2 separate regions of the Homo sapiens genome follow, and region 2 is linked to region 1. The links come from fine-mapping of genetic effects on gene expression. A gene starts in region 1. The other region holds a variant in brackets. All regions are shown on one strand. Distances are from middle to middle.

The links. PIP is the estimated chance that this variant, and not a neighbour inherited with it, causes the effect. A credible set is the group of variants that fine-mapping cannot tell apart.
Region 2: its variant is the best candidate, but not a certain one, in a credible set for the expression of ZNF789 in lung (TOPMed, PIP 0.60).

The regions. Positions count from the first base shown.
Region 1 is chr7:99,471,189-99,475,571 of GRCh38, reverse strand. ZNF789 (zinc finger protein 789) reads right to left here and starts at 2,682. Exons shown (of 5, transcript NM_213603.3): 1 at 2,516-2,682. RefSeq lists enhancers at 2,393-2,682, 2,973-3,062, 3,283-3,442.
Region 2 is chr7:99,387,717-99,392,099 of GRCh38, reverse strand. It overlaps ARPC1B (actin related protein 2/3 complex subunit 1B), which reads right to left. Exons shown (of 10, transcript NM_005720.4): 4 at 3,839-4,061; 5 at 2,088-2,195; 6 at 1,001-1,207; 7 at 847-922. Among named protein-coding and RNA genes, the nearest start is that of ARPC1B, 15 kb to the right of the region's middle. The variant C/T (reference allele first, on the strand shown) is at 2,576.

The sequences.
Region 1 (4,383 bases):
CTTTCTCTAAATCTACTTACGTATTTCCAACCCTGCTCCTACAGCCAGCTCCACCTGCTGACAAGCCCCCTCTGAAAGTGTTCTAAAGGGGTCACTCAACCCTCACCTCTAGCCTGGTGATTTGCTAGCAGGATTCAGCAACAGTAACAATTACAGACTTGATTTTTTTTTTTTTTTAAACAGAGTTTCACTCTTGTTGTGCAGGCTGGAGTACAATGGTGTGATCTCTGCTCACTGCAACCTCCGCCTCCTGGGTTCAAGCGATTCTCCTGCCTCAGCCTCCGGAAGTAGCTGGGATTACAGGCACCCGCCGCCATGCCCAGCTACTTTTTTGTATTTTTAGTTGAGATGGGGTTTCACCATGTTGGTCAGGCTGGTCTTGAACTCCTGATCTCAGGTGATCCACCCACCTCAGCCTCCCAAAGTGCTGGGATTACAGGCGTGAGCCACTGCGCCCAGCCTACAGACTTGCTTTCTAACTCAGGATGAATTTTAATGAAATTCACTTTCATTTTAATGGATGCCCCTCAAACACAGTTCACCTTCCCTGAAAACAGTTTAGAAGACCCTTTGCCTTTCTTTTTTTTTTTGAGGAGTCTCCCTCTATCACCCAGGCTGGAGTGCAGTGGTGTAATCATGGCTCACTGTAGCTTCCAACTCCTGGGCTTAAGCAATGCTCCTGCCTCAGTCTCCTAAGCAGATGGGACTGCAAGAGTGCACCACCACGCCCAGTTGTTTGTAGTTCTTTTGTAGGTGGGGCCTTGCTATGTTGCCCAGGGTGGACCCTCTGCCTTTTAAGCAAAGAGGTACACTCTAAAAACTATCCTGATCAATGGCTCCAAGGCTGGAGCAAAGGCCTCATCCCTTTCATTCTCTACACCAAACTTGTCCAAACCTCAGCCTGTGGACCGCATATGGCCCAGGACGACTTTGAATCCAACCCAACACAAATTCGTAAACTTTCTTTTTTTTTTTTTTGAGGTGGAGTCTCGCTCTGTCGCCCAGGCTGGAGTGCAGTGGCGCGATCTCGGCTCACTGCAAGCTCCGCCTCCCGGGTTCACGCCATTCTCCTGCCTCAGCTTCCCGAGTAGCTGGGACTACAGGCGCCCGCCACCACGCCCCGCTAATTTTTTGTATTTTTAGTAGAGACGGGGTTTCACCGTGTTAGCCAGGATGGTCTTGATCTCCTGACCTCGTGATCCTCCCGCCTTGGCCTCCCAAAGTGCTGGGATTACAGGCGTGAGCCACCGCGCCCGGCTCGTAAACTTTCTTAAAACCTTATGAAATTGTTTTGCGATTTTTTTTTAGCTCATGAGCTATTTTTAGTGTTTGTGTATTTTATGTGTAGTCCAAGACAATTCTTCTTCCAATGTGGCCCAGGGAAGCCAAGAGATTGGACACCCCTGCACTATATTTACTGAATGTGTTTGTGAAGGCTGTGCATCTGAATGTCAGACTTGCTAATGAAAAATTAAATGGAGTCCATGTTTTGGGTACGGCCCTAGGCCAACCACCCACAGCCATGTAAGGCATTTAAAATACATTGATTTCTCCCTTGAGTTCAGGAGTTGGAGACTGCAATGAGCTATGATGGCACCACTACACTCCACCCTGGGTGACAGAGCAAGACCCTGTCTCTCTTAAAAACAACAGGCCGGGCGTGGTGGCTCACACCTGTAAATCCCAGCACTTTGGGAGGCCGAGGCGGGCGGATCATGAGGTCAGGAGTTCAAGACCAGCCTGGCCAACATAGTGAAACCCAGTCTCCACTAAAAATACAAAAATTAGCCGGGCATGGTGGCGCGTGCCTGTAGTCCCCGCTACTCGAGAGGCTGAGGCAGGAGAATCGCTTGAACCCGGGAGTTGGAGGTTGCAGTGAGTCGAGATTGGCCCATTGTACTCCAAACTGGGCAACAGAGTAACACTTCGTCTCAAACACAACAGCAACAACAATTCCTTATTTCCCTGAAAAGTGTGCGCTGACCAGGAAAGAAGCTTTTTTCTCGTCCGCATGATAAACTGAACCAATCAGCTACAGATGCGAGGCTGATCCAGCTCGACTTACCCTAGAAGGAATGCAAGTTGATAATGGCCAATTACAATCAAGATCACTGCACTTCCTCATTTAGCTTTCCAAGCTGCCATTGGAACAATTTGCCAGCTGTTCCTCTGCATGCACAATAAACTCTTAAAACTTTAACTGGAGGGGACTGTTAACTTTTGACAAAATCCAAAATGCCGCTTCACAATCACGTGAACACCTTCCACTAACAACCACGGCTCATCTCCCACTCTAACAAAACCAAGTCCAGGCGTTCACCATCCATTCATTCTTCGGACTTTGCTCCTCTCGCTGCCGAAGACTTGACACCGCCAAAAATACTCAAAAGCTGGTGCCACAGGCCCCGAGAGCCGCCGCACAAACCCGGAGCGTCCCCTGCGAGCCGGGGGTGTGCGCAGTGGCCTACCCCCCGCACCCACGCCCCCCACAACACTCGTTTCCTTCTCCCCAAACCTGCTGACGGCTCCGAATCTCCGCCAAGCCGCCTCCACCAGGGGCTGGGCTCTCCTCTCGGGGTTCCCGGGCCTGACCCGAGGTCTGTCTGGTCCGCGCCCCTCGGCGAATCACCCCTTACCGGAGGAACAGACACAACCACTCTGGCAGCCTCAGAGCCTCTCGCTGGCTCCACCTGCGCGCGCCGAGCGAAGCGTCCCAGCCAGCGGCCCCTCTAGGACCGCGGAGGCTTCACGACTCTCTTGTCAGACAAAGAGAGTGGCGCCCGCGCGAGTGGGCCCGAACCAATCAACGGCCGCCCTCCCCGCCCAGGCCAATCAACGGCCGGAGACAGCACCGAGAGAGTCACGTGATGGACAGGGCCCCGCCCCTCCTGTTTAATCGTAACATAATTTAGAATTATTCTATGATTCAAGAGCGACACAATTCGTTTCTTTGGCTGTGTGTTTGTGGAGGGGAGTAAGGTTATCAGATAAAAGAAGAAAAATGGGCCAGGCGCGGTGGCTTACGCCTGTAATCCCAGCACTTTGGGAGGCAGAGGCCGGCGGATCAGGTCAAGAGATTTAGATCATCCTGGCCAACATGGTGAAACCCCTTCTCTACTAAAAATACAAAAAAATTGCCGGGCGCGGTGGCTCACGCCTGTAATCCCAGCACTCTGGGAGGCCGAGGCGGGTGGATCACCTGAGGTCGGGAGTTCGATACCAGCCTGACCAACAATGGAGAAACCCGTCTCTACTAAAAATACAAATAAAATTAGCCGGGCATGGTGGTGCCTGCCTGTAACCCCGGCTACTCGGGAGGCTGAGGCAGGAGAAGCGCTTGAACCCGGGAGGCGGAGGTTGCGGTGAGCCGAGATTGCGCCACCGCACTCCAGCCTGGGTGACAGAGCGAGACTCCGTCTCAAAAAAAAAAAAAAAAAAAAAAAAATTAGCTGGGCATGGTGGCGGCGTGCCTGTAGTGCCAGCTACTCGGGAGGCTGAGGCAGGAGAATCACTTGAACTCGGGAGGCGGAGCTTGCAGTGAGCCGAGATCCCACCACTGCACTCCAGACTGGCGACAGAGCGAGACTCTGTCTCAAAAAAAAAAAAAAGAATATTAGATCTTAATTAAAAGGATAATTGTGTGGCTTATGTAAATTACCCCCAAAATACAGTTTTAATGTGAGTAAGGGGTTAATTTTTTTTCTTTTTTTTTTGAGACAGTCTCGCTCTCGCCCAGGCTGGAGTGCAGTGGCGCGATCTCGGCTCACTGCAAGCTCCGCCTCCCGGGTTCACGCCATTCTCCTGCGTCAGCCTCCTGAGTAGCTGGGACTACAGGCGCCCGCTACCACTCCCGGCTAATTTTTTTTGTGTGTGTGTTTTTAGTAGAGACGGGGTTTCACCATTTTGGCCAGGCTGGTCTCGAACTCCTGACCTCAAGTGATCCGCCTGCCTTGGCCTCCCAAGTTTTGTTTGTTTTTTATTTCTTCTAAACAAAACAAAACAAACAGGATACACGTGCAGAACGTGCAGGTTTGTTACATGTGCCATGGTGGTTTGCTGCACCTATTGACCCATCCTCTAAGTTCCCTCCCCTTACCCCCGACTCCCCAAAAGGCCCAGGTGTGTGTTGTTCCCCTCTCTGTGTCCATGCGTTCTCAATATTCAATTCCCACTTATGAATGAGAACATGCTGTGTTTGGTTTTCTGTTCCTGTGTTAGTTTGCTGAGGCTGATGGCCACCAGCTTCATCCATGTCCCTGCAAAGGACAGGATCTCATTCCTTTTTGTGGCTGCTTAGTATTCCATGGTGTATTTGTACCACATTTTCTTTATCCAGTCTACCACTGATGGGCATTTGGGTTGGTTCCATGTCTTTGCTATTGT
Region 2 (4,383 bases), 83 kb after region 1:
CAGAGCACCTCACAACACCCACACTGGACATAAAATGTGAGCAAGAAGTAAATATCTTTTTTTTTCTGTTTTTGAGATGGAGTCTCGGTGGCTCACCCTTGGCTCACTGCAACTTCTGCCTCTGGGTTCAAGCAATTCTCCTGCCTCAGCCTCCCGAGCAGCTGGGACCATGGGCGCCCACCACCACACCCGGCTAATTTTTGTATTTTTAGTAGAGATGGGGTTTTGCCATGTTGGCCAGGTTGGTCTTGAACCCCTGACCTCAGGTGATCTGCCCTCCTTGGCCTCCCAAATTGCTGGGATTACAGGTGTGAGCCACCGGGCCTGGCTCTTTTTTTTTTTTTTTTGAGACAGGTTTTGTGTCGCCGAGGCTGAAGTGCAGAGGTACGACCATAGCTCAGTTCAGAAGCCTCGACCTCCCATGCTTAAGTTATCCTCCTGCCTCAGCCTCCCAAGTAACTGGGATTATGAGATTACAGGTGCACCACCACACCCAGCTAATTTCTTAACTTTTTGTAGAGACAAGGGTCTCACACTGTGTTGCCCGGGCTGGTCTCAAACTCGTGGCCTCCAGTGATACTTCCACCTCAACCTCGCAAAGTGCTGGGATTTTAAGTGTGAGCCACCGCACCTGGCCAAATCTTTACTCTGTTAAGCAACTGCAGCCAGGGACTTTTGGTTACTGCAGCATAACCCAACCTGTTCTGCCCAATTCTGGTACATGAGAGAATGCAAGGAAGAAAAAAAGGAGGGAGGCAGGAGAAAGGAGGGAGGAGATGAGAGTTGCTGGGCTCTCTCGGAGGCCTGCTGTGACCACACACCCTCCCTCCCCTCCCTATTCCTCACCGCTGCCACCAGGCTGTTGTCTGTGATGAAGGTCAGCGCCAGCAGTGGTAGTGTTTCAGAGGCCAGAGTCGCGACGCTGAGGGGAGAGAGCTGTGAGTCACGGTGTCCCACTCCTCTGCACTCACCTCCTCCCCTGGGGATGGCCTCGACTCACGCCATCTTCTTGTCGGCATCAGCCAGGCAGACGGTGCTGTCGTGGCTTACCCAGGCCACGCGGCTCCCGCTGGCTGAGAAACAGACGCCATGTACCCAGCCGCAGCTACTGCTGGATTCGAACATCAGTTCCCCAAAGGGCATCTTGGAGCCCCACGGGGTGGGTGCCGGCCGTTCCTCCACCTCCTTGATGTAGGCTGAAAAGATCCTACCGGGATAGGCAAAGTAGAGGTAAAGTAGCCAGGCATGGTGGTGCGCACCTGTACTCTCAGCTACTCAGGAGGCTGAGGCGGGAGGATTGCTTGAACCCAGGAGGTCAAGGCTGCAGTGAGCTGTGATTGCGCTACTGTGCTCCAGTTTGGGCAACAGAGTGAGACTGTCTCAAAAAAAAAAAAAAATTTTTTTTAAAGGGTTAACAGGTGCCTGGGCATGGTGGCTGAAGCTTGTAATCCCAGCACTTTGGGAGGCTGAGGCAGATGCATCACTTGAAGTCAGGGGTTCGAGACCAGTCTGGCCAACATGGTGAAAACCCGTCTCTACATTTAAAAATACAAAAATTAGCCGGGCATGGTGGCATGCGCCTGTAGTTCCAGCTACTCAGGAGGCTAAGGCAGGAGAATCGCTTGATCGCTTGAACTCAGCAGGCGGAGGTTGCAGTGAGTCAATATCACGCCACTGCACTCCAGCCTGGGCGAAAGAGCGAGAGTCCGTCTCCAAAAAAAAAAAAAAAATCCTGTCTAGCTGGGCGTGGTAGTCTTGCTTGGGAGGCTGAGAAGCAAGAGGATCGCTTGAGTCCAGGATTTGGAGGCTGCAGTGAGCTATGATTGCACTACTGCATTCCAGCCCGGGCAACAGAGCAAGCCCCTAGCTCAAAAAAAATAAAAGAGGTGGGCAGAGGCCCATCCAGCTGAGACATGAAGGGTTCCCCAGGAACTAGAACCTTCAACCGACGCCCAGGTCATCCACTGGTAGCAGGTCTGGAATGTGTCTAGAAGCTGGGGTGTAGAGCTTTCAGGTGCGGCTCCCCGCTATGATGTCAGCAGTCAGTTGACGTCAGCCCCGCCCTCCCCCATGGCGCCCTGTCTCACCGACACTTGAAGTCACAGGAGCCGGCAGCCAGCAGCACATTGTTGGGGTGCCAGTCCAGGCTGAGGACGGTGGAGCGGATGGGCTTCTTGATGTGCTTGCAAACCCACCTGGGAACGGTGGTCAGGCAGACAGGGAGAGAGGGACAGGCAGGTGGGACTCATGGACCTCAGCACCAGGGACTCCAGGCTCCCACTGCTCCCTGCAGCCCACCAAAGACCCAGGAGAGAGGCGACTGGGCATTGCCAGCCCACAAGGCCGTCAGGGCCCTGGGGCGGCAGGGATGTGCTGTGTCGCTTCTGGAGTGGGAACTCTGTGCCCTCTATCCTTTAGGCCACACAGTCACCCTCAGAGCAGGCTCAGCAAAGTGATGCCATCACCAGAGGTCACACAACTACTAACTGGCCATGGTGGGATGCAAATTTGGGTCTCTCAGATGCTCCTGGCTGGCCTCTGCCCTCAGCCATGCAGGGGAGATTAAAAACTAAGA[C/T]GTGGACTGGCAATCATGGCTCACACCTGTAGTCTCAGCACTTTGGGAGGCTGAGGTGGGAAGATTGCTTGAGGCCAGGAGTTCAAGACCAGCCTGGACAACGTGACAAGACCCTATCTCTACAAAATAAATAAATAAATGATTTGGGCCTGTAGTCCGAGCTACTCAGGAGGCTGAAGTGGTAGGATTACTTGAGCTCAGGAGGCTGAGGCTGCAGTGAGCTATGATCACAACACTGCACTCCAGCCTGAGCGACAGAGCAAGACCTTGTCTCAAAAATATATATATGGCCGGGCGCAGTGGTTCACGCCTGTAATCCCAGCACTTTGGGAGGCGGAGGCAGGAGGACCACCTGAGGTCAGGAGTTCAAGACCAGCCTGACCAACATGGAGAAACCCCATCTCTACTAAAAAATACAAAATTAGCCTGGCGTGGTGGTGCGTGCCTGTAGTCCCAGCTACTCAGTAGGCTGAGGCAGGAGAATTGCTTGAACCTGGGAGGCAGAGGTTGCGGTGAGCTGAGATTGTGCCACTGCACTCCAGCCTGGACGACAGAGCAAGACTGTGTCTCAAAAAAAAAAAAAAAAAAAAAATTGGCTGGGCACGGTGGCTCACGCCTGTAATCCCAACACTTTGGGAGGCCGAGGCGGGTGGATCATGAGGTCAGAAGTTCTAGACCAACCTGGCCAAGATGGTGAAACCCCATCTCTACTAAAAATATAAAAATTATCCGGGCATGGTAGCAGGTGCCTGTAATCCCAGCTACTTGGGAGGCTGAGGCAGAGAACTGCTCGAACCCGGCAGGCAGAGGCTGCCGTGAGCCAAGATCGTGCCACTGCACTCCAGCCTGGGTGACAGAGTGAGACTCCATCTGAAAAAAAAAAAAGGAACAAGATGTGGCTGCGAGCTCGTGAGTGGTGCCTTGAGAAAGTGACTGCTACAGGGCCTTTGCTAATCTGTAAAGTGGGGACAGTGACCGATGCCCAGTCCACGGAGCTGCAGGGAAGTCAGGACTAATGTGTGTGCAGGGCTTAGTGAGGTGCCCCCAGATGTGTTTCTGGTGTGGTGGGTGTCACTGGCAGTGAGAACATCCGGACGCTGCAGAGAGGCCCTTGCCTCATGAATGAGGCCCAGAGAGGAGAGGATGGACTCCCCCAGGGTGATGGGAACAGGGGTCCTGACATCCCATTTGGTGCTTCCCGGGGACACTCTAGTCCTGCCCCCGGTCCCTAACAGCCCACTCTGGCCCTGCCTAGGTACCCACCAGTCATTCTCCTGCTCGAAATAACAGATGGAGATCACACGAGAGCCGCTGCCCACAGCAAACTTGTTCTCGTTGGGGGCCCAGCGCACGCAGCGGGCAGCCCGGTTGATCCGCAGGATGACCAGCGTGGGCTTCCATGTGCGGCCCTTCAGCGTCCACACGTAGGCGTTGCGGTCTGTGCCGCAGGTCACAATACGGTTACTCTCGGGGGCCCAGTCGATGCCTGTGGGGGGATGGAGGGAACACAGGAGGCTGATGACACTCAGGCAGAGGTGGCTGTATGGTGGCCACATGGGAGAGGCTGAAAGGCCACCATCCAGGTGGAAGCTGTATCTGCCCAGCAGGCACTTTTTTTTTTTTTTGAAACAGAGTCTCGCTCTGTCACCCAGGCTGGAGTGCAGTGGCATGATCTCAGCTCACTGCAGCCTCTGCCTCCCAGGTTCAAGCAATCCTCGTGCCTCAGCCTCCTGAGTAGCCGGGACTACAGGTGTGTACCACCAATCTTTTTTTTTTTTTTTTTTTTTTGAGACAGAGTCTCGCTCAGC